3 separate regions of the Homo sapiens genome follow, and regions 1 and 3 are each reported to be linked to region 2. The links are microRNA targets in miRTarBase. Many come from high-throughput screens and were not tested one by one. Region 2 holds a microRNA gene; each other region holds the end of a gene's coding sequence.
Evidence for each region. The annotated mature microRNA hsa-miR-4720-3p reads UGCUUAAGUUGUACCAAGUAU and lies in region 2 at 1,791-1,811, shown strand. An mRNA with a match to its seed (bases 2 to 7 or 8) in the 3' UTR can be bound and repressed. Matches are read on the target gene's strand: a 7mer-m8 pairs with bases 2 to 8, a 7mer-A1 pairs with bases 2 to 7 and ends in A, and an 8mer does both.

Region 1: miRTarBase lists COX6A1 as a target of hsa-miR-4720-3p. Seed matches in the 3' UTR shown: 7mer-m8 at 5,954-5,960.
Region 3: the mRNA of PDS5A is a reported target of hsa-miR-4720-3p. Seed matches in the 3' UTR shown: 7mer-A1 at 6,254-6,260.

Annotation. Positions count from the first base shown.
Region 1 is chr12:120,439,390-120,446,587 of GRCh38, reverse strand. It overlaps COX6A1 (cytochrome c oxidase subunit 6A1), which reads right to left. Exons shown (of 3, transcript NM_004373.4): 3 at 5,858-6,134. The coding sequence ends at 6,051. TRIAP1 (TP53 regulated inhibitor of apoptosis 1) reads left to right here and starts at 204. Exons shown (of 2, transcript NM_016399.3): 1 at 204-362; 2 at 1,633-2,624. The coding sequence starts at 216. The coding sequence ends at 1,716. It overlaps GATC (glutamyl-tRNA amidotransferase subunit C), which reads right to left and starts at 144. Exons shown (of 4, transcript NM_176818.3): 1 at 27-144. The coding sequence starts at 107. It also overlaps the pseudogene LOC124903126. RefSeq lists enhancers at 1-174, 8-302, 1-449, 1-863, 175-1,022.
Region 2 is chr16:81,383,273-81,390,470 of GRCh38, forward strand. It overlaps MIR4720 (microRNA 4720), which reads left to right and starts at 1,746; the gene lies at 1,746-1,821. It overlaps GAN (gigaxonin), which reads left to right. Exons shown (of 11, transcript NM_022041.4): 11 at 1-7,198. RefSeq lists a silencer at 3,602-3,796.
Region 3 is chr4:39,818,955-39,826,152 of GRCh38, forward strand. It overlaps PDS5A (PDS5 cohesin associated factor A), which reads right to left. Exons shown (of 33, transcript NM_001100399.2): 33 at 3,909-6,534. The coding sequence ends at 6,531. Among named protein-coding and RNA genes, the nearest start is that of UBE2K, 120 kb to the left of the region's middle. RefSeq lists an enhancer at 1,245-1,782.

The DNA of each region.
Region 1 (7,198 bases), not on the chromosome of region 2:
CCCGCCTAGATGGCCCTGGCCTTTACCTGAGGATCCGCCTTGGAGGTGAAGCCCTGGCGCCCGCCCAGAGGGGCCCGAAGGCCCAGCCACACCAACCGCGACCACATTTCTTCCTTCCTTGGCCCCCGCAGTGCGCCCGCGCGTAACGCCGAGCGACGCGCCTGAGAGTGATGACATCAGAGTGCGCCGTCGTCGCCGCCGCCACCACTGTCGCCATGAACAGTGTGGGGGAGGCATGCACGGACATGAAGCGCGAGTACGACCAGTGCTTCAATCGCTGGTTCGCCGAGAAATTTCTCAAGGGGGACAGCTCCGGGGACCCGTGCACCGACCTCTTCAAGCGCTACCAGCAGTGTGTTCAGGTGAGCCCTCCCGCCTCTGTTCCCAGGCCCTGCATTCTCGGCGCTGTGTCCCACCACACTCATCGTATTTTACGGGGATTGGGACTGGACTGGAAGGGTGGAGAAAAGTCGCAGTGAGGCCAGTGGCAGGAGCTCGCTCCCCTACCATCACCACCGAGGCCACTTGGGTGTCTCTCCGAATGACAAATATTGGGGCAGTGCTTTTCAAGAAGCACAGTCACATCCTTTGGTTCATTTGGTGTTCACCCTAAACTCGCAAGGTGGGCATAGTTACTCATATTTTATACATAAAAAACTAACACCCAGAAATAGGAAGTGATTAATCCGAGTTCACTAGCATCAGGTTTCCTTGGTTCTTTCGCAGGTGGTGCACTTTTCCACTATTACTGCTGGGGTCTGGGCGGGATTATACTTCAGAATTCAGACTGGAGGGTCACATTTTTTTGTTGTTATAAACCCTTCGTTAGCCTGTTTCTCTCTCTTGACCAGTCCCCGCAACTGCAGCCAGGAAATGTTTATTCTGGCCCAATGGATGTGGAACTGCTTTGAATTGTTAAGAACAGCACCGGGCAAAGCACTTCCAATAAGTTAACCCAACACATCCTCACAGCAATTCCCCGAGGTAGTTGCTGTCTTCATCCCATTTACAGTTAGTCACATAGCCAGTAAGTCCTGGAACCCAGATTTGAACCTAAGTCTTTCACTAACACAAAGTGATGATTATTTTTCAAATTTCACTTAATTTTAACGGTTCCCTCACAACTCCTTTTCCAGTCTCCCTCAGGTCTTACACTTGATTTATTCATTATGGTACTTCTGGTTTTTATTTATTTTTGAGGCAGAGTCTCACTCTGTCTCCCAGCCTGGAGTGCAATGGCACAATCTCAGCTCACTGCAACCTCCGCCTCCCAGGTTCAAGCTATTCTCATGCCTCAGCCACCCGAGTAGCTGGGCTTACAGGCATGCGCCACCATGCCCAGCTAATTTTTGTATTTTTAGTATAAACAGGGTCTCGCCATGTTGGCCAGGTTGGTCTCTAACTTCTGGCCTCAAGTGATCCACCTGCCTTGGTCTCCCAAAATGCTGCGATTATAGGCGTGAGCCACCACACCTGACCGGTACTTGTTTTTTAAAAAGTATGTGGTTTGAATCATGGTTATAAGTCTTTATAATCAGCTTGATTTTACTTTTGTACTGTCATATTTTATTTACAAAGCTTGCAACTTAAGCTTCATGTAGGTCTTTATAATGTGTTTTCTCCTCCTACCAGAAAGCAATAAAGGAGAAAGAGATTCCTATTGAAGGACTGGAGTTCATGGGCCATGGCAAAGAAAAGCCTGAAAATTCTTCTTGACCTTGACAGTCACCTTGAAGGATTTCGCAAGTCCAGAAATTGAGGACTCTGGATTTTTGTCAACTAACTCTGTGAACATAGCCATCAGATTTGATGAGGAACTTAGGAGAGAGGAGTTTTATTTCCTCCTTCGATGTTTTCCTCTCAGTTGTAAAAGATGAACTCTTTGAGATGATTTCTCACCTGCTGTGGTATCTTGCAGGAACTGTGTGCTAAAATTGAACAATTTTTTTGAGATTATGGTTGCAATACTTGGCGTGGAATCAGCTTTACATAAATATACCTTGTATGCAAACGATGATAAACTAGTCAGGATGAGCAGAGCTGCCTGACCTCTTGATTTCTGCTGCAAAAGACATATACACTGTACTGGGGTCACTATTTATGAAAGCAATTGGTTAGGACCTCTTTTTTTCCTCTCAGGGAACTAATGCTCTGAAAAGGGATCTGGGCACAACAGTTTCAGTGAGTGCTTTTGAGCACACTTTTATTTTTATATAGTAACTAATGGTTAAGATTGATGGTGGCCTGGATTAGCAAAGAGGAAGACAGCTTTTAACACAGTTCCCTGCCTTCACAAGAGGTGTCAGATTAAGATGTGAAAGCTGCAAGAATGTTGCAGTGAACACCATTTCAGAGCTCTCAGTGTGCAGTTCAGGAATTAAGATACTTGGAATAGCTGTGGAGGAAGAACCTAAATTGCAAAGATCTGCTATTGCCAGCTCTCAACCCAAGTCAGTGAATTGTCAACCTGCATATCCTAAAAATGTCAAAATGCTGCATCTGGTTAAATGTCGGGGTAGGGGGGAAGCTGAAGGTGCTCGCTTCATTTGCCTTGTTTACTCATCCTGCCCTGTAATGTCTGTAATCCTGAAGATGGAATAAATTGTAACATTTAGTTTCTATCATTATTTGCCTCTGGAACTCAGTGCATTTTATGGAACTATTACCCTGTTACCCTACAAACCTCATATATACAGTGGGGAGAGTTTTGTGTTTTGTAACTTAAAGGTGAAGAAAAAGTGACTTGTCTTAAGCTAGGTGGTACAGTATGGCAATCAGAAACCTCACATTTTTTTTTTTTGAGACAGTCTGGTTCTGTCACCCAGGCTGGAGTGCAGTGGCGCAATCTTGTCTTACTGCAAACTCCACCTCCTGGGTTCCAATGATTCTCCTGCCTCAGTCTCCCAAGTAGCTGGGATTACAGGCATGCATCACCATGCCCAGCTAGTTTTTGTATTTTTAGTAGAGATGGGGTTTCACCATGTTGGCTGGTCTTGAACTCTTGACCTCCCGAAGTGCTGGGATTACAGGCATGAGCCACCGCACCCAGCCAAAACCTCACTGATTTCTAAAATTTCCACAATAGGCTATACAAATACACTACGGTACCAAAAAAGGATCAGGAGAGCACTTACTTACCTCAGAATGTCACGTAATCCCCACAATTAATTGAGTAATTTGGTTTTATTAGATACCCAAAGTAGTATGAAACTTGAATTACAGGCCGGGTATGGTGGCTCATGCCTGTAGTCTTAACACTTTGGGAAGCTGGGATGGGCGGATCACTTGAGCTCAGGAATTTGAGACCAGCCTGGGCAACATAGCGAAACCCTGTCTCTACAAAAAAATTAGCTGGGTATGGTGGTGTGTGCCTGTAGTCCCAGCTACTCTAAAGGCTGAGGTGGGAGAATTACCTGAGCCTGAGAGGTGGAGACTGCAGTGAGCTGTGATTGTACCACTGCACTCCAGGCTGGGTGACACAGCAAGACCCTGTCTGAAAAATAAACCAAGAAACTTGATTTATAGAAGGCCCTAATTCTATTGTCTTTTCTCCACTTTACCAATTGCTACATCATATTTAATGTGACTTGTCCTTAATGTCATTTCAAAACATTCTTCATTTATATTTTATGACTGGCTAGGGTCCATTATCCAAGGATTATAAAAGATGTTTGGAACCCAGCCAAGGGAGGCCAGGCAGCAAGCTGAAGTATAATGCATCTGTCCTAAACTCAGACTGGCCACAACCAAAACAGCTCTATAGGGACTCAGAAGTGCAGGCTGTAATATTACAAAATGGCAAAGACAATGAGATTCTCTATTCCGTTAATTATTACAAAATGGCAAAGACAATGAGATTCTCTATTCCGTACTGTATATGCCTTACTTTTGCGTTACCAGTTTAATGTAATATAATATGAAATACCTTGTTGCCTCTTGAACCTTACCACGAAAGTGTTCCTTTGAGCCTTAAGAATAAACCAGCTGGCTGGGCGCGGTGGCTCACGCCAGTAATCCCAGCACTTTGGGAGACTGAGGTGGGCAGATCACCTGAGGTTGGGAGTTTGAGACTAGCCTGACCAACATGGAGAAACCCCATCTCTACTTAAAATACAAAAAATTAGCCAGGTGTGGTGGCACATGCCTGTAATCACAGCTACTCAGGAGGGTGAGGCAGGAGAATTGCTTGAACCTGGGAGGTGGAGGTTGTGGTGAGCCAAGATCATGCCATTGCACTCCAGCCTGGGCAACAAAAGCGAAACTCTGTCTCAAAAAATAAAATAAAATAAAATAAACCAGCTCTGGCCAGGCACAGTGGCTCAGACCTGTAATCCTAGCACTTTGGGAGGCTGAGGTGGGCAGATCACCTGAGGTTAGGAGTTCAAGACCAGCCTGGCCAACATGTGAAACCTTGTCTCTACTAAAAATACAAAAAAGTAGCCGGGCGTAGTGGCGGGCGCCTGTAGTCCCAGCTACTTGGGAGGCTGAGGCAGGAGAATGGCGTGAACCCGGGAGGTGGAGCTTGCAGTGAGCCGAGGTCCCGCCACTGCACTCCAGCCTGGGCGACAGAGCGAGACTCCATCTCAAAAAAAAAAAAAAAAAAAAAAAAATAATAATAATAATAATAATAATAATTGCCCTCTCAGAGTGGTTTTGTAACTACTACTACTACCATTTACTATCCATTAAAGCAGGATAGTTTTAATTCCACAGAAAAGCCAATAAGCAGAAATGTGTCACGCTCCCTTTGTTTCTCTTAAGATTTCTGACCCTACCAGCCCTGAAGGAGATTACCTCAAAGTAAGAACTTGACACATTCGAGGCCAGGCACGGTGGCTCACGCCTGTAATCCCAGCACTTTGGGAGGCTGAGGCGGGTGGATCACGAGGTCAGGAGATCGAGACCATCCTGGCTAACATGGTGAAACCCTGTGTCTACTGAAAATACAAAAAATTAGCTGGGTGTGGTGGCGGGTGCCTATAGTCCCAGCTACTCGGGAGGCTGAGGCAGGAGAATGGCTTGAACCTGGGAGGCAGAGCTTGCAGTGAGTGGAGATCGTGCCACTGCACTCTAGCCTGGGCAACAGAGAGAGACTCCGTCTCAAAAAAAAAGAAAAAAAAGAACTTGACATGTTCAAGAAAATTATGACTACAGGGAAGATTCTGCAGTAAATGCTAGTGGAATGGGACAGGAAAAAGATGAGACCCAGATCAAGCACTTCCTCTTGAGAAATACAGATACCTCTTTCAGGTGTAAATTGCAGGCATTCTGCTAGCCATTCAATGTCTTTGATATCTCAGGCCCGTCAAGGACCAATCTTTTGTTTTTTGAGACAGAGTCTCACTCTGTTGCCCAGGCTGGAGTGCAGTGGCACGATCTTGGCTCACTGCAACCTCCACCTCCCGGGTTCAAGCCTCTACACCCAGCTATAGGAGTGCGCCACCACACCCAACTAATTTTTGTATTTTTAGTAGAGACAGGATTTCATCATGTTGGCCCGGCTGATCTCCAACTCCTGACCTCAGGTGATCTGCCAGCCTCAGCCTCCCAAAGTGCTGGGATTACAGGCATGAGCCACCGCACCTGACCAAGGACTAATCTTGATGCTTAATTAGCACCACTCCACTTGGTCCCTTTATCCACATCAGGCACAATAAACCAAGAGGGGCTGTTATAAACACTTATTCAATGGGCTGAATTGGACCTGTAACACTAAACAGCAGCCTAGACCTTCACTGTGGAAACAGAAATAACTAATGCCAATTTCTTTTCAACTTGGACACTGACTTGAAGCTCAAATGCTAATTTCTGCGAAAAAACACAACCAAAGAAAGTAACTCTCAGCTCATGACCAATCTAAATTTAAGTTATTTATTTAAGCCATCTCCTGCCACAAGCAAAGGGATGGGAGACCAGTATACCAGTCATCATTTGATACAAGTAAAGAAGGTGAGCTTAAGGTCCCATATACTTTTTCTGGTCCATGTGCAGAGTAACGGTCCAAACCAGTGCTGTGGTCCCTGGTGCCCGGGTAGTGGTCCAGATTCTCTTTATTCATCTTCGTAGCCAGTTGGAAGTGGATTCACATGAGGGTTATGGAATAGAGTATGGTTACCATCTCCCCAGGGAAACGGCTGTGGAGTGAAGATGTCAGTTAGATAATTCCAGAAAATAATTTAGAAAGAACACCGTCATGAACTGCTTATAACGGGGTGACAGATCATATATAAAAACAAAATGGAAATTAGTCCTTTATCTACTGGTGTAGTTCAACCTTCCCATTATTTAAGGAGCTCTTATAACTACCAGGGGAGCCCTTAAAGTTATCCTGGCTACAGGACAGTTTTAATTCCAGAAACAAATATGGATGGCAGAAAATGCAAGCTCAAGTTAGTTACTCATCATCCTCTCCCTAGTAACTAGTATATCCAGTGCTGTGTTTATGAAAGTGTAATCCTCAAATCACCTATATCAAAATGGTGGCAGTATTAGGGGAGGGAGATGCTTAATTAAATGCAGATTTCTGGCACCATCCCAGACTTCAAACAATATCTGGGCTGGGAAACTGCAGCCCACCCTGAATTATCTTGCCTATTACCTTTGAAAAGCATTACTTTAGGGCAACGGTCTCCAACCCAGGGTGATTTTGCCCCTTCAGGGCACACTGGGTAGTATCGGGAGACACTGTGATGGGGGCGGGGGAGGGGGAAGCGGGAGTGGGGTTGCGCAGGTACTACTGCCACCTAGTGGGTACAGGCCAAGGATATGGCTAAACATTTCACAATGCACAAGATAGCCCCCCAACAAGAATTACCCAGCCCCAAATGTCAACAGTGCTGAGGCTGAGAAACCTTTACTGTTTGGCTTCTAATTGCATTGTACAAGGATGGGAGTGCCGCTCAAAGACTCAACAAATTCAAGAGTCTAGGTTAAGTTTCTACAAGGCCAGTCCTATATGGGCTAGGTGATGTAATAATAATAATAATAATAATAACTTTTTTCATCACTTCTCGGCCTTTTGGCTAAGATCAAGTATATTATTACTATTTTTTTTTGAGACGGAGTTTCACTCCTGTTGCCCAGGCTGCAGTGCAATGGCTGGATCTTGGCTCACTGCAACCTCCTCCTCCTGGGTTCAACCTCCTAGATTCTCCCACCGCAGCCTCCCGAGTAGCTGGGATTACAGGCGCCCGCCACC
Region 2 (7,198 bases):
GACGGAGTCTCGCTCTGTCGCCTAGGCTGGAGTGCAGTGGTGCGATCTCGGCTCACTGCAATCTCCGCCTCCTGGGTTCAAGCAATCATCCTGCCTCAGCCTCCCCAGTACCTGGGATTACAGGTGCTTATTACCACACTCGGCGAATTTTTTGTGTTTTTAGTAGAGACGGGGTTTCACCATGTTAGCCAGCATGGTCTCGATCTCCTAAACTTCGTGATCCGCCCGCCTCAGCCTCCCAAAGTGCTGGATTACAGGTGTGAGCCACCTCGCCTGCCCTCTTTTTTTTTTTTTATTTTGAGATTAAAACTAATTCTTTTAAAGTCACTACTCAGCTGAAATTTGGCCTGATTATAAATGTTGATAATAATTTCTTCCTGGCTCAACAAAGTTGTTGAGCTTCCTTCTGTGCACACATTGAAAGAAAACCAGAAATTGTACAGTCGTGATATGAATTAGAGAAGGAACAGGTGGAAAAGGATGGCAACACACAGAGTCCGGGGGACACACGGCCTTAAGATGAAGTGAACGAGTAGACACTGAATAGGATCCACGTAAATGAACGGCCATTTCAAATCATTCACATCCCAAACGGAGGTTCATCTGTCTTCTGGTTGGTGAATTATATTTATTAGGATCTTATTTTTAGCATTTCATTACAAGTAATAGGTTTGGGTACCTTATTTTTATTGTTTTTACTCATCAGTTATGAATAAGGCATACCTTAGAAACTTGGGTTAAATTTTTTCAAGTTATACCAGTCAACTTGGTTTAAATACAACTGTACTAACTTGCTTTATCATGTTTCCTGTTTAATTGGATGAGAATTACATGCACTTATTCAGTTGTTCTTTGTGTTTATAGGAAAAACTCTGTTCTCAGCTACCTCATTATGTAGTATTGTGCTTGATCCCCTGCCAATTGAGAAGAATTCAACACATTCTGTTCTTTAACAAAAGCTTGGAAGCAGGCAGTCAGAGGCCTTGAGGAATACAATTCTCTAAGGCCTGTTTTCCATTTTACTACTTAAAAAAAAAAAAAAAAGAAAAGAAAAAAAAGCACTTACAACCAGGAGGAATAATAATTCTCCTAGAGTTGCTGCAAACTGATTACTTGAAACTCAACTTGAACTTTAAAGAGTCTTTAAAAGGCTGTTTTCATAATGCAGAAAAGTAGTCTATTTAAACGCCACTGCTGTGTAAAACAGGGGGCTCGATTTCCATTCTTGTTAGCATCAGACAAGAAAATGTGTCTATCTGTCATCTGACCCAGTATTTGGGATTTGGGTGCTTGAGGATACTATTTTTTTCATTTCTTATAAGGTGCTATTGTTTCCCAGAAATCTTTAATTTTGATGAAAATCTACTCATTGCTAAGATCCTCCTCACTTAAAGTGTTTCCTCAGTGCAGAGTTGAGGTTGGCAGAACTATATAGAGTTGGATGATACTGAAAATCATGAATGATGTGATTTGTTCCATGTATCTGTGGAACATCCCTCACCTTCCTCCGGTATGCGCCTTCTGCACTCCACACGTGGTCGCCTCCATCCTCCCTAGTGTCTGTCAGCTTGCCTGGTCACCAAGTCAGGAGGAAGAAGATGAGGAGGCTCACCAGTTGTAGGCAAGACTCTTCCTCTCGGGAGATCTTGTAATAATGGCCCAGTTTCAGGGCACAGTTGTACACATTCTACTTAAATGGAGGAGTTCAGTGATGCCGTGGCCAAAAGAGTTATGCCCATTTCTAAAAGCCTGGCATATTTGGTATAACTTAAGCACCAGGTAAAATCTGGTGCTTAAGTTGTACCAAGTATAGCCAAGTTTAACTGTCGTTGTGTATTAATAAGATTTAATTTTTATGCTTGTGCTTTTCAGAGTAAAGGGCTTGCTTTCAATAGTAGAATGACAAAGCTTCTCCTCCAATGACAATCTGTTAGCACCCTGTTGACTTAGCTCAGGACATGAGACTGACTTAGCTCAGGACATGAGACATTTCCTGGAAGTGATTTCCATGAGAACAAAGGCTTATTCCTTTAACTTAAACCCCAAACTTTGTTATTTTAATTATTTTCAGGCAATCATCTTTATATACTTTCCTTACAAACCCAGTGGTTGAGAGCATAGGCCTTGGTGGCAGGTGCATCTGGGCTTGGGGGCTTCTGCCACACTTACTACTCTGTGACTTGGGAAGCTCTTAAGGCTCCCAAGGCTCCGTTTCTTATGTGGAAGAAGAATAGCAGGAGGACTCACCTCTGCGGGTTGTTGTGAGGATTAACTGGGTGATGACTGTAAGCAGCTGGGAGAGTGCCTTGTGTGCAGTGACCACTGTTGCTGCCACCATGATTATGTCACCTCTCAACATGGGGTGGTGGGAGGCCCTGTGGATGAGGCCAAGGCTGCCTGCACTGAGTGTCCCAGGCCTTATAGCTTTCCACATTCTCACGTCTGCTGCCACATGATATACAAGTAAATGTATTAGAAGTTGGTGTTCATAAAATACTTTTTTTTTTTTTTTTTTTTGAGATGGAGTCTCGCTCCGTCACCCAGGCTGGAGTGCAGTGGCGCCATCTCCCAGGCTCAAGGGATCCTCCTGCCTCGGCCTGCCAAGTAGCTGGGACTACAAGTGCACACCAGTATGCCCAGCTAATTTTTTGTATTTTTAGAACAGGTGTGGTTTCACCATATTGCCCAGGCTGGTCTCGAGCTCCTGAGCTCAGGCAATCCGCCTGCCTCAACCTCCCAAAGTGCTGGGATTACAGGTGTGAGCATCCAGCCAGAAAATGATTTGCTTTCTAGACCCATATCACCTCTCTCCATCTACATCTCTAGTATTTAAATTCAACACAATTCTAGATAGCTGAAACAGCCCAAAATATGTGTTTAGAATACTTAGAGTTTGTTATAAATAACCCTCTGTTTAGAATTTGCCCAGTGAAATTCTCTAATAATACTTAAAACTCTTTACTAAAGTTGAATTTTCCTTTTTTTTCATTGAAATAGCAAAGGTAGTAATCTGTATTGGTCAAAGAAACGAGATAATTCCTAGATCTCTGTTTTAGACCAGTAGACCTAACTGTGCTTTCTTAACTTGGATGTTACATGAAACTTAAAAACAAACAAATATGTGTTACAAGTACTTGTGTGTACGTGCATGTGTGTTTGTGCATGTGTCTGTGTGTGTGGAACTTTTGTACCTTTGCATAAAGAAGGTTATTTAACAAAGTGGTACAAACAGTGAACTACTTAATCCTTCTATGGTATCATACACTTCTTTTCCTGGTTAGGTTATGAGACTGGCAGAGGTAGGAGTATATAATGTGCTCAGCTTGTCTTGATTTCAATAAGACATTTGATAAAGTCATTCTTGATCTCTGAATGTGAAAAGGAAGTAGAACAGCCGGGCGCGGTGGCTCACGCCTGTAATCCCAGGACTTTGGGAGGCCAAGGCGGGCAGATCACCTGAGGTCGGCAGTTTGAGACCAGCCTGACCAACGTGGAGAAACCCCGTCTCTATTAAAAATACAAAATTAGCCGGGCATGGTGGCACATGTCTGTAATCCCAGCTACTCGGGAGGCTGAGGCAGGAGAATCTCTTGAACCCAGGAGGCGGAGGTTGCGGTGAGCCGAGATGGTGCCGTTGCACTCCAGCCGGGCAACAAGGGCTAAACTCCATCTCAAAAGAAAAGAAAGAAAGGGAAGTAGAAGTAGGATTTAACAAAGGACCGAGAAGTCGGCTGAATAGCCAGGTTCAGACAGTGTTGGCAAGAACGGATCTTTGGCAAGATCACTTAAGGTGAGCTACTCTAGCAGCATCCTGTTTGACATTTGTATCCATAACTTGAATAAAAATATAGAAGGCAAAGAAGAGTGCTGGGCAAGATGTGTTGGGTGTTAGATCTGCAATACTCTTCATAGTGTAATGGCTAAATGTAAAGTCTTACGTCTCGGTTCAAGAAAGCACGTTGCTATATGAAATTTCAGAAAAAAGTTTTGTTGCGGGGGGTGGGATATTGATCATTTGAACATATGCCAGTTGTTTCTCCTGCCCTAGGGGAGGTTGGCACGGCAACCTTCCCACTCCGTAGGTGGGTAGCCTTGCTGATGGGGCACGTCGTCACCAAGGGACCTGATTGTTGTCATGGTTTTGTCTTGTCCTCCTCCCTGGTGAAAGTCTACTGCAGTTTTATTCTCAGCTCTGGAAGGAGAGGGAACGAGCCTCTGCCTGTGTGTCCTGACCCCTCTTGCCTTGTTTTTGATCTGCTCAGGCCGGGTGCAGTGGCTCACGCCTGTAATCCCAGCACTTTGGGAGGCAAAGGCAGGTGGATCACTTGAGGTCAGGAGTTCAAGACTAGCCTGGCCAACATGGTGAAACCCCGTCTCTACTAAAAATACAAAAATTAGCCGAGTGTGTTGGTGGGCCCCTGTAATCCCAGCTACTCGGGAGGTTGAGGGAGGAGAATCACTTGACCCCAGGAGGCAGAGGTTGAAGTGAGCCAGGATTGTGCCACTGTACTCCAGCCTGGGCGACAGAGGGGGACTCTGTCTCACAAAAAAATAAAAAATTAAAAAAAAAGGTCTGCTCAGAAATAGGGGAAACACGGGATCAAGATCATTAGAGATTTATAGGCTGGGATGCACACCATGTCTTCAGAGCTAGCCGGCTGTGTCTTCTCCCCGTTTCTTTCACTGGTGAATAACCTTTCGTTTGAACCAGCCTTGATTGTTCTCTCCATGTTCCACTGTGGCTCCCCATGGACACTGCTAGGTGGAATCTCTGAGAAAACAGGCACTTCGCAGTCGGCGCATCTTTCTCTGCCAGCTTAGGGATTGCCGTCAAGGTGGAGGAAGGGTATTTTGGCCATGTTCGGAGTCGTTGTTTTTACTCACTCTTCTTGGGATAGCTTTCCCACCCTGCCCTCTGCTCCTCTGTCCCAACCCTCTTCCAGCCTGGTTTTTTTACTGCTTGAATTATGTATCCAAAATAAAAAGGAAAAGAAAGGTGCAGTTGGGGCGGGTTGTTGGGGGCGAGGAGAATAGCCCTTCTGGTTCTTCAGACCACATAATGGCCAGAGCATGAGCCTCACAGATCCCTGAGCAGACCTGCATACTAGCACTTTCCACAACCAGCTGGCCCTGGCTGTGAGAGTCAGATCTGTCCCCAAGGCTCCAGGTCAGAACTTGGACCCAGGTGCCTTCTGAGGCACCGCCAAGGACACATCCCAGCGCCTTAGGCACCTGTAGGCTAGAATGACACCTTCCAGGCCAGCCCCAGAGGCCCTCAGGGCTCCCCCTCCAAGCCGGGAGGGCAGGCAGGCACAGGCCCCGCTCACTACCTCAGCACCCAGTGCAGCCCCAGGCTCCCGGACGTGCTCGGCCCGGTGGCCTCTTGTGTGACAGGCCCTCTGCCATGTCTGTCCGCAGAGCCGGGTGGGGACCCTCCGTGTGGGTCCTCCTCTGTCCCTTTGCAGCTCGCATTCGCCAGAGCGGAGCGCAGCCCTTGTTTCCTTCTTTCCTCTTCAGCTCTGACTTAAAAACACACTATGTTCCAAATCGTTGTGGGATCGGAAACTAGAACTGCTTGTTTCCAGGAGAGACCACCTTTTCATATTTTTTTTAAAAGGAATTTGTGCTTCAAAAGAAACTCCAAAAAATAAATTTATTGTTAGTCTAGCATATGCTCATTGAAATTGACTTATGTTTTATTTTAAAAAATCATGTAGGATCTGGTACATGGGGCGGGCAAAAGGGTATCATCAGCTTAAGAAGTAAAGAAGTGAGCCTTCCATTTGTGTGGGTGATAACATCTTTTTCCTAGATCGTACCTCAAAATTCAGGCTCTCCATGAAAACAAAGATAATCTGAATAAAAATTGTGTGTTGGGAAATGTATCAAGTGACCTTCAGTTAAGAAAAGCACAGGCTGTTTATTAGCACAACTTGCTTCATTAAATAATTCGTGGCTTTTTCTGCCACTGGGGTTCTTTTCGTTTTGAATTCAGCTTGTGTTTGGTTCCTCGGTCTTGTACCCCTTCAGTTCGCCGGCGACGTAATGGTGATACCCTTTGTTTTTTGTATCATACCTTTTGTGAATTGTGACAACCATCCCGTAATCATTGTGGCCTCAGCAGAAGTTTTGAACAATCTTTGCAGCCACTGTTGGGGTGTGTACCAGCAGCCTGGAAGTGACCAGCAGAGCTGACAAAAGCACCCCCTGCTCTGCCCACCTCCGCAGAGTCCTGTCCTCATCAGAAACGGTATCGCGGATGCTCCTCAGGTAGGCGTAGGCAGACTTCATTGTGTGTTAGCAGTGACAGTGATGTCTGTACCTATCTGTGAGTGAGACCCATTCATGACACACTAGAAATGTGTACATTCTTTTGTTTTCCATCACGGGTATAGGTCTTCTGCCATGAAAGAGAACTATCAAGGAAATTCCTGAAAACAAGATTTGTAAATTCGATTTGACCCTCCCAAATTCAGGGCTGCTCTTTGCAGTGGTCCCTGGCCCAGCAGGTGGCCGGCGTGGCTCCTGTTGGCTCATGCCAGTGTTGTGCTGGACCCTCGAGTATGTGACTGTCACCCTTGTCCAAGACTGGTTTTTAACAGTCTTGATTTGTCATTTTGATGCTTTGAATACTATAAGGAAAATGCCACGAATACCATATAAATACCACACCAATCTGTTGAACATATCTGTGTTTTCTGACATGGGACCTGCAGAATAGTATTTCTTTTAAATCCTGCAACTTTATTATCTAGTAGAATTCCAAGTAGGTCTGCTTAGACACATATTCAGTGAAGATTGTATTGTGTGTGATATTATCCTATCTTTAATAAAGTCCTACTACTGAAAAACAGGGATTTGCAATGAAAATCATAGCTAAATAGGCAGGTTTAGAAAGTTCAAAATATTGGAAGTGCTAGAAGGCTGCAACTTGTAAAATTGTACTCCCCAAGTTCAGTAGGATAGTAGAGAAGTCGTGCTAAGTTGATTTCATTGAAATGTCACGTCTCACATCCTGTGGTCCAAAGGTACTAGTTTGTTTTGTGGAATAATTTTCTGTTCACTTGCTGATAAGAAATTTAGCAGTCAGAAGTAATTTTTAATTAATAACCTTTCTTTTTAAAAGTTGCTTTATGGTTTACAAGTAATACTGATGCAAAAAGGATTTGTTAACCTAAATTAAGTAGCACGCACTTTG
Region 3 (7,198 bases), not on the chromosome of region 2:
GCTTTGGAGAAGTCCACTAAGCTCCTAAGGTGGCACAAAATTTGTCCAAAGGAGCCACAGGAATTACTGACACACAGAATTTGTGCTTTGAGTGGGGCGTGTCCCCTGTCCCTCAGGACTACAGTGGATAGAGAGGTTTCAGGGCTGGGACCAGCTCTTCCCCAGAGCAGGGAAGTTTAAGGCCCAGGGAGGTTTAAGGAGTGTTGGGATTCGCTGAAGTGGTGGCCTTCTTGTCTTTCCCCAGCCCTCAGCCTGGAGAGCCACCTCCAGCTTCAGGCCCAGCTCCTTGTGCCCTGAGGTAGGGCAGTTTGCTCAGGCCAGTCACTTCTTCTTTTTTTTTTTTTTTTTGAAACGGAGTTTTACTCTTGTTGCCCAGGCTGGAGTGCGGTGAGCGCGATCTTGACTCACCACAACCTCTGCCTCCCGGGTTCAAGCGATTCTCCTCTCAGCCTCCCAAGTAGCTGGGATTACAGGCATGTGCCAGCACATCTGGCTAATTTTGTATTTTTGGTAGAGATGGTTTCTCCATGTTGGTCAGGCTGGTGTTGAACTCCTGACCTTAGGTGATCCGCCCACCTCGACCTCCTAAAGTGCTGGGATTACAGGCGTGAGCCACTGCGCCTGGCCCAGTCACTTCTTTAGACACCTACATGCTCATAACAGTTCTCAGAATTGCACTTCAGTAGAAAAGGTGAGGATTTTCTGCTTCTACGGCATCCATCAGGGTTCTGAAGTCCACACAAAATGTATCACCTGGAACAGTCGCAGCTGCCTGTGTTATGTTGCTAGTCCTTGTAAGGCACCAATCCTGGTGTTTTTAATGTCGGCTCCTGGCATCGTGCCTAGTCTCTACAGATTACAAATGCCTGAAATGATGAAAAATGGCGACTCCCTATTTTCTAGTTGGCTTTTGCAGATCCAGAATCAGCACTACGGTGGCTCCTTACATGTCTTACTGACTTCTAGTGGTTTTTTTTGTATTAGTCCATTCTCATGCTGCTATAAAGAACTCCCTGAAGCTGGGTGCAGTGGCTCATGGCTGTAATCCCAGCACTTTGGGAGGCTGAGGCGGGTGGATCACCTGAGGTCAGGAGTTCGAGACCAGCATGACCAATATGGTGAAACCCCGTCTCTACTAAAAATACTACTACTCAGGAGACTGAGGCAGGAGAATCGCTTGAACCCAGGAGGCGGAGGTTGCAGTGAGCTGAGATCGCACCATTGCACTCCAGCCTGGGCAACAAGAGCAAAACTCCGTCTCAAAAACAAAAAAACAAAACAAAACAAAAGAAAACAAAAGCCTGCCTGAGACTGGGTAATTTAGAAAGGAAAGGTTTAATTGACTCAGTTCCGGATGGCTGGGGAAGCCTCAGGAAACTTAATCATGGTGGAAGGGGAAAGGGAAGCAAGGCACTTCTTATACGGCAGCAGGGGAGAGCCAGAGCAAGGAAGGGCCACACCTTTTAAACCATCAGATCTCATGAGAACCACTATCAAGAGAACAGCATGGGGGAAACCGCCCCAGATTCAATCACCTCCCACTAGGTCCCTCCCTCGACATGTGGGGGATGGCAATTTGAGATGAGATTTGGGTGAGGACAAAGAGCCAAACCATGTCACTATTCAAGCTTCTTCAGGAAGAATGGATGTAGTGCTATTTACTAAAAATAACAGGTTTTATTCAGAATGACACGGTCCTTGCTCAAGAACAACAGGAGTAACCAGAGAATGAGGGGAGATAAGTTAGCAATCAGTATTGATAAAGAAACATTTGAGAAACACCCCAAAACTGAAGTACTGATCAGCAGCCTGGCCCAGGTTCCTTAGAAATGAGACCTGTATATGTTCCCGTTAGGCTTTTTTTTCTTTGACACAAGGTCTTGGTCACCCAGGCTGGAATGCAGTGGTGTGATCTCAGTTTACTGCAGCCTCTGCCTCCTGGACTCAAGCAATCGTCCCACCTCAGCCTCCCGAGAAGCTGGGAAAACAGGCACGCACCACCATGCCTGTCTTATTTTTTTAATTTTTTGGTAGAGATGGGTTGTATGTTGCCCTGCTAAGACTTTGAACTATGATACAATAGTGAAATAAATGAAGGTTATTACTCTCATGGGAATGAAAAGTTGAAGGTATGGTTTACAGCAGAAAGGCACTTGATTCTGCACTCTCATTTCCATCCTCCCTACCTTGCTGGCTTATAGCGAACTCCTTGTAGGAAATGCTGTCACCGTTACCTAAGCAGGCTACAAAGCTGCTTGTCAGAGCAGGACAGTTCATGTGAGTAGCAAAGACAAAAAAGTCTTGTCAGTGCAAGTATTGGGGGTGGAAGGTCAACCCATTATGGGTAAAATACAAAACTAGGCATGATAGCTTTTCCTTTTTTTTTTGAGACAGGGTCTCAGCCTGTCACTCAGGCTGGAGTGCAGTGGTGCAAAATGTACGTTTCAGGCCTTTATTTACTTATTTTGAGACGGAGTCTCGCTCTGTTGCCCAGGCTGGAGTGTAGTGGCACAATCTTGGCTCACTGCAACCTCCGCCTCCCTGGTTCAAGCGATTCTCCTGCCTCAGTCTCCCGCGAAGCTGGGACTACAGGCGTGCGCCAGTATGCCTGGCTAATTTTTTTTATCTTTAGTAGAGACAGGGTTTCACTATGTTGACGAGGCTGGTCTCAAACTCCTGACCTCAGGTGATCTGCCTGCCTCAGCCTCCCAAAGTGCTGGGATCACAGGTGTGAGCCACCGTGCCCAGCCTATTATTTTTGAGACAGTTTCATTCTTATTGCCCAGGCTGGAGTGCAATGGCGCAATCTCGGCTCACCACAACCTCCGCTTCCCAGGTTCAAGTGATTCTCCTGCCTCAGCCTCCCACGTAGCTGGGATTACAGGCATGCGCCACCAAGTCTGGCTAATTTTTTTGTATTTTTATTCAAGACGGGATTTCTCCATGTTGGTCAGGCTGGTCTCGAACTCCTGACCTCAGGTGATCCACCTGCCTCAGCCTCCCAAAGTGCTGGGATTACAGCCATGAGCCACCACGCCTGGCCTATTTATTTTTGAAACAGTTTTGCTCTGTTGCCCAGGCTAGAGTGCAGTGGTGTGATCTTGGCTCACTGCAACCGACGACTCCCAGGCTCAACGGATTCTCCCACCTCAGTCTCCTGAGTAACTGGGACTACAGGTGTGCACCACCACACTCGGCTGATTTTTGTATTTTCGGTAGAGACAGGGTTCACCATGTTGCCCAGGCCAGTCTTGAACTCTTTAGGTCAAGTGACCTACCTGCCTCGGCCACCCTCCCAAAGTGCTGGGATTAAAGGTGTGACTCACTGCGCCCAGCCATGATAGACTTTCTTACCTCTCGTTCTGGTCACCTCTTACTCCAGATACATTTATGTAATCTGCTTGCTCTCTTGAATTTGTTATGGAACTAAATATGTGAGTGCAGAACTTGCAATGAATGGATGAACCATAGACTAATATGAATCAAAGGCTGCTATTAAATTCTTAGGTTAAAAAAATAACTTCTTGGCCAGGTCTGGTGGCTCAGGCCTGTAATCCCAGCACTTTTCTAGGAGCCTGGGGCAGGAGGATTGCTACAGTGAGCCATGATCATGTCATTGCACTCCAGCCTGGGCAACAGGGTAAGATCTCATTTCAAAAAAAAAGCCACCCCCTAAAACAAACCTCGTTTGGAAATTCCGAATGTGCCTCAGAATTTATCATCCACTATGTTCTTCCTTAGCCACTGTAAGCTACCTCAGAGTACCCAGCCAGGAAGTTTGAAGGTGGCTTTTGATTTCTAATTAGGATATTCAGACTCCAGCATCTCAACAGAAAATATGCAGAGACATTTTATCAACTTGTGACATACCAGGGGTACATGAATATTCAGGGCTCCACACTACTATATAATGCTGCATTTCTTGGTTTTATTTGAAACAGTGCATATTTTTAGCATTTTATGGTAGGATTTTACACTTGTCATTTACACAAATTACAAGGTTCTGCTTCAAGTTTTTAAAAAAAATTTAAAAATTCAGCCCATGTGCAGCACAAGAATATGCAAAACTACTTTACATTATACACACTTTTTATCAAAGGAGATACAAAATTCTGGCTTGTTGTTTTAGACAAATACAAGAAGCTTCAAACTAGACACAAAGGGTTAACATTAATTCTCAAATATAAGTCTGCACTTTTGTGTTGTAGTTCTCTGAGATGTGAATACCAAATTCCTAAGGGATTTTAATGTTTTCCTTTGAAAAGGAAAACTAAAAAAATTCCCGTAAACAAGTCCCTCCCCATCAGCTTGGTCTTTCCACAACCCTACTCTTGCTTCCCTTAGTGCCAGACACTTGCATCATGTTACAAAATTGGGGTGGGCCACTTACATCATACAAGGAGCAAATCCTTTTAACTTCTCTCCTGCAAAAATCTAAACAGGAATATATTGATGCAGATGGTTCTGCTACATTTTATTTAATATGATGTAACACTTGGTAATCTAGTAAACTGTGATGCCGGGCAATTAATCAAAGGGAGGAAGAGACAAAGGTCCCTATCAATGCACTTTTTGTTGGTGACACACTGGAAACCTTAGGAATCAAGTTGTCTGATGCTAAGAGAACTTTAAACTCTCTCTAAATAGAACACACCTACTGATTGCTTGAGGGACTTCTCTGATACTTATGCATAGATACTCTTTTTCAGCATGTTGGAGGCAATATTTTATACTTTCTAAAGGGTTCTGAAGAGGCAATAAGGAAGAGTGGGGATTTTTCTGCCCCTGTAAAGGTATCATTTTCTATCATTGGTATCCATTGTTCCCTAAGCATCTTCTGATACCTAAATGTGTGTAAATGCATATTTAAAATAATTACCCATCTTTCAGTCAATACACAGCCAACTCTTGATTATCTATGAGAAACGTAAGTGACATTTACTCTCAAACTTCACTCTAACAGAATCATCCACCTTTGATACACTTGTTTGTTTTACATCCCATGTACACTACAGCCTATCAAGACGAAGTTATAACACAAATGTTGTTTCCTCTGACCCATGCTAGAAACGTGTAAGGAAATGGAGTGAGCACATTCTGCTAGGGCTTTGCGGATGACCCTACAGTGGACAGTGGGGGCAGGATAGAACTCTGGACATGAGAAAAGACAAATTTCATGTTCCTCCAGAATCAGGTCTTACATGCCTTCGTTATTTTGTTATCACAAAATTAAAAACCTGAGGCTTAGTCACTATTTTATATAGATAATGGAGAGTTGACTGTAATCATGTTATGACTTTAGCTCTTTAACATGAAAAAATTCACAAGAAAGCATATGATAAAAAGATTAAAAAGACTGCCATGACATCTAGAAGCATTTATTTTATGCAAAAAACTTAAATATGATTATGTGTACACATAAAGTGCACACATTACCTATGCTGAACAATGCCAAGAAACATAATATATTGATGCAACAGTTTTCTAAAATAAACATAAAAATGAGCCCAGACCATCAGACAAAAGCAAAACACTTATTTCCAAATAGCACAATGCTGAAAATTGATAGCAATCCTAAAACACCTCCAACTTTCCTTAAAAGCTGCCAAAGTCCAACTATTTTTTAAAAATTGATTTTTTTTACATTAATAAAAATCTGGTGACAAACATTATAAAACCAAATGCTGGACAGTCTTTACTCCTTTAAAATTCCAAATATTCCAACATAATCACAGGAGTAAAAACCATTTTAAAGTGATATGCTTTATGAAACAAACAACAATATGTACATTTATTGCAAATTATATTAAACTAAAATGAGGGGAAATCAAAATATGAACTGTTTACTACTTGCAAATCAATAATTTTAATTTTCTCACTCTGATAAAAATCAGAAAGCAACATTTATAAAATTGCTACCACATCACTTTTCATAGCAGGGAACCGAAATCTGTACATCTCATTTTTGCAGAAAAGTAGGCAGGCAGAAAGAATTATACATAAAAGTTTCCAAAAGGAAAAACAAAGAAATATTTAATCTGATCTCTTTTCTTTTAAAAAATTAATTCAGTAGACTTCTATTTTTTCCTGTGTAACATGGGAATTCCTGGCTCTAAAATGGATGAATTTTCAGTGTCAGTGTAAAGACATCTTGTTACTTTCTTTAAAATAAAAACTGCAGCGTGGAAATTAATGGTGTATTACGCATTTAAACTCCAGATAGGCAGGAACTGGAACCAAGTGTTAAGCAATTTGCTTAATTATTGACTTTTCGTAAGAAAAGTCTAGGGGAAGGGGGAGAACAGAGTTGCTTTTAGCCTCTCTCTCAAGAGTTTCTGCTGTACATTTCCATCAGAGGACTTGTGGTCATGTGAAAAGGAAGTAATAGTCTCTTTAGTTTTCAAGGCAGAGAGTGTGTGTTCTGAAGTGAGCTTCATTTTCTGTTCAGGGACATTTGTGAATCCAAGTTTTTGCAGAAGCTGGAGCCTGCTTCTGTTTGGCCTTCATTTTCTCCCTTTGCAAATGCATTTTTACCTTAGGGTTAAGAATAGAACGCAAAGTTAGAAAAGATGTGGAGAAGATATAAACCAAACGAAAATGATTTCATTTCCATAGTTGTTATCTAAAATCTTTTTTTTTTTTTTTAAACTTAAGCATCAGGATCTCACTCTGTCACTCAGGCTGAAGTACAGTGGCACGATCATGGCTCACTCAGCCCCAACTCCTGGGTTCAAGTGGTCCTCCAGGCTCAGCGTCCAGCCTGAGCCTCCCAAATAGCTAGAACTATAGGCGCACACCACCATGGCTGGCTAATTTTTAAATTATTTGTACAGACGGGATCTCATTATGTTGCCCAGGCTGGTCTTCAACTCCTGAGCTCAAGCGATCTGGGAAGCCTGCGCTTCTCAGATTCACTACTGGGATTACAGGCATGAGTCACTGTGCTTGGCATGTTATCTAAAATCCTTAAAAAGTTTTTTCATTTTTTCACCTGAAACTTGGTTTAAAGAGCCTTTCCCTAAACTATATAAAAACCAAACACCAATAAAGAAGTTTTTGTTTTCAATGACTTAGTGCTGCTATCCAATGCCCTATTTGCTTACAACATTAAAAGCTATTTATCATACTATGGCAAAATGAATTTATAAGCAGCAAAATAACTTCTGACTCATGAGCTGGGTAAACATAAACGTTTTAG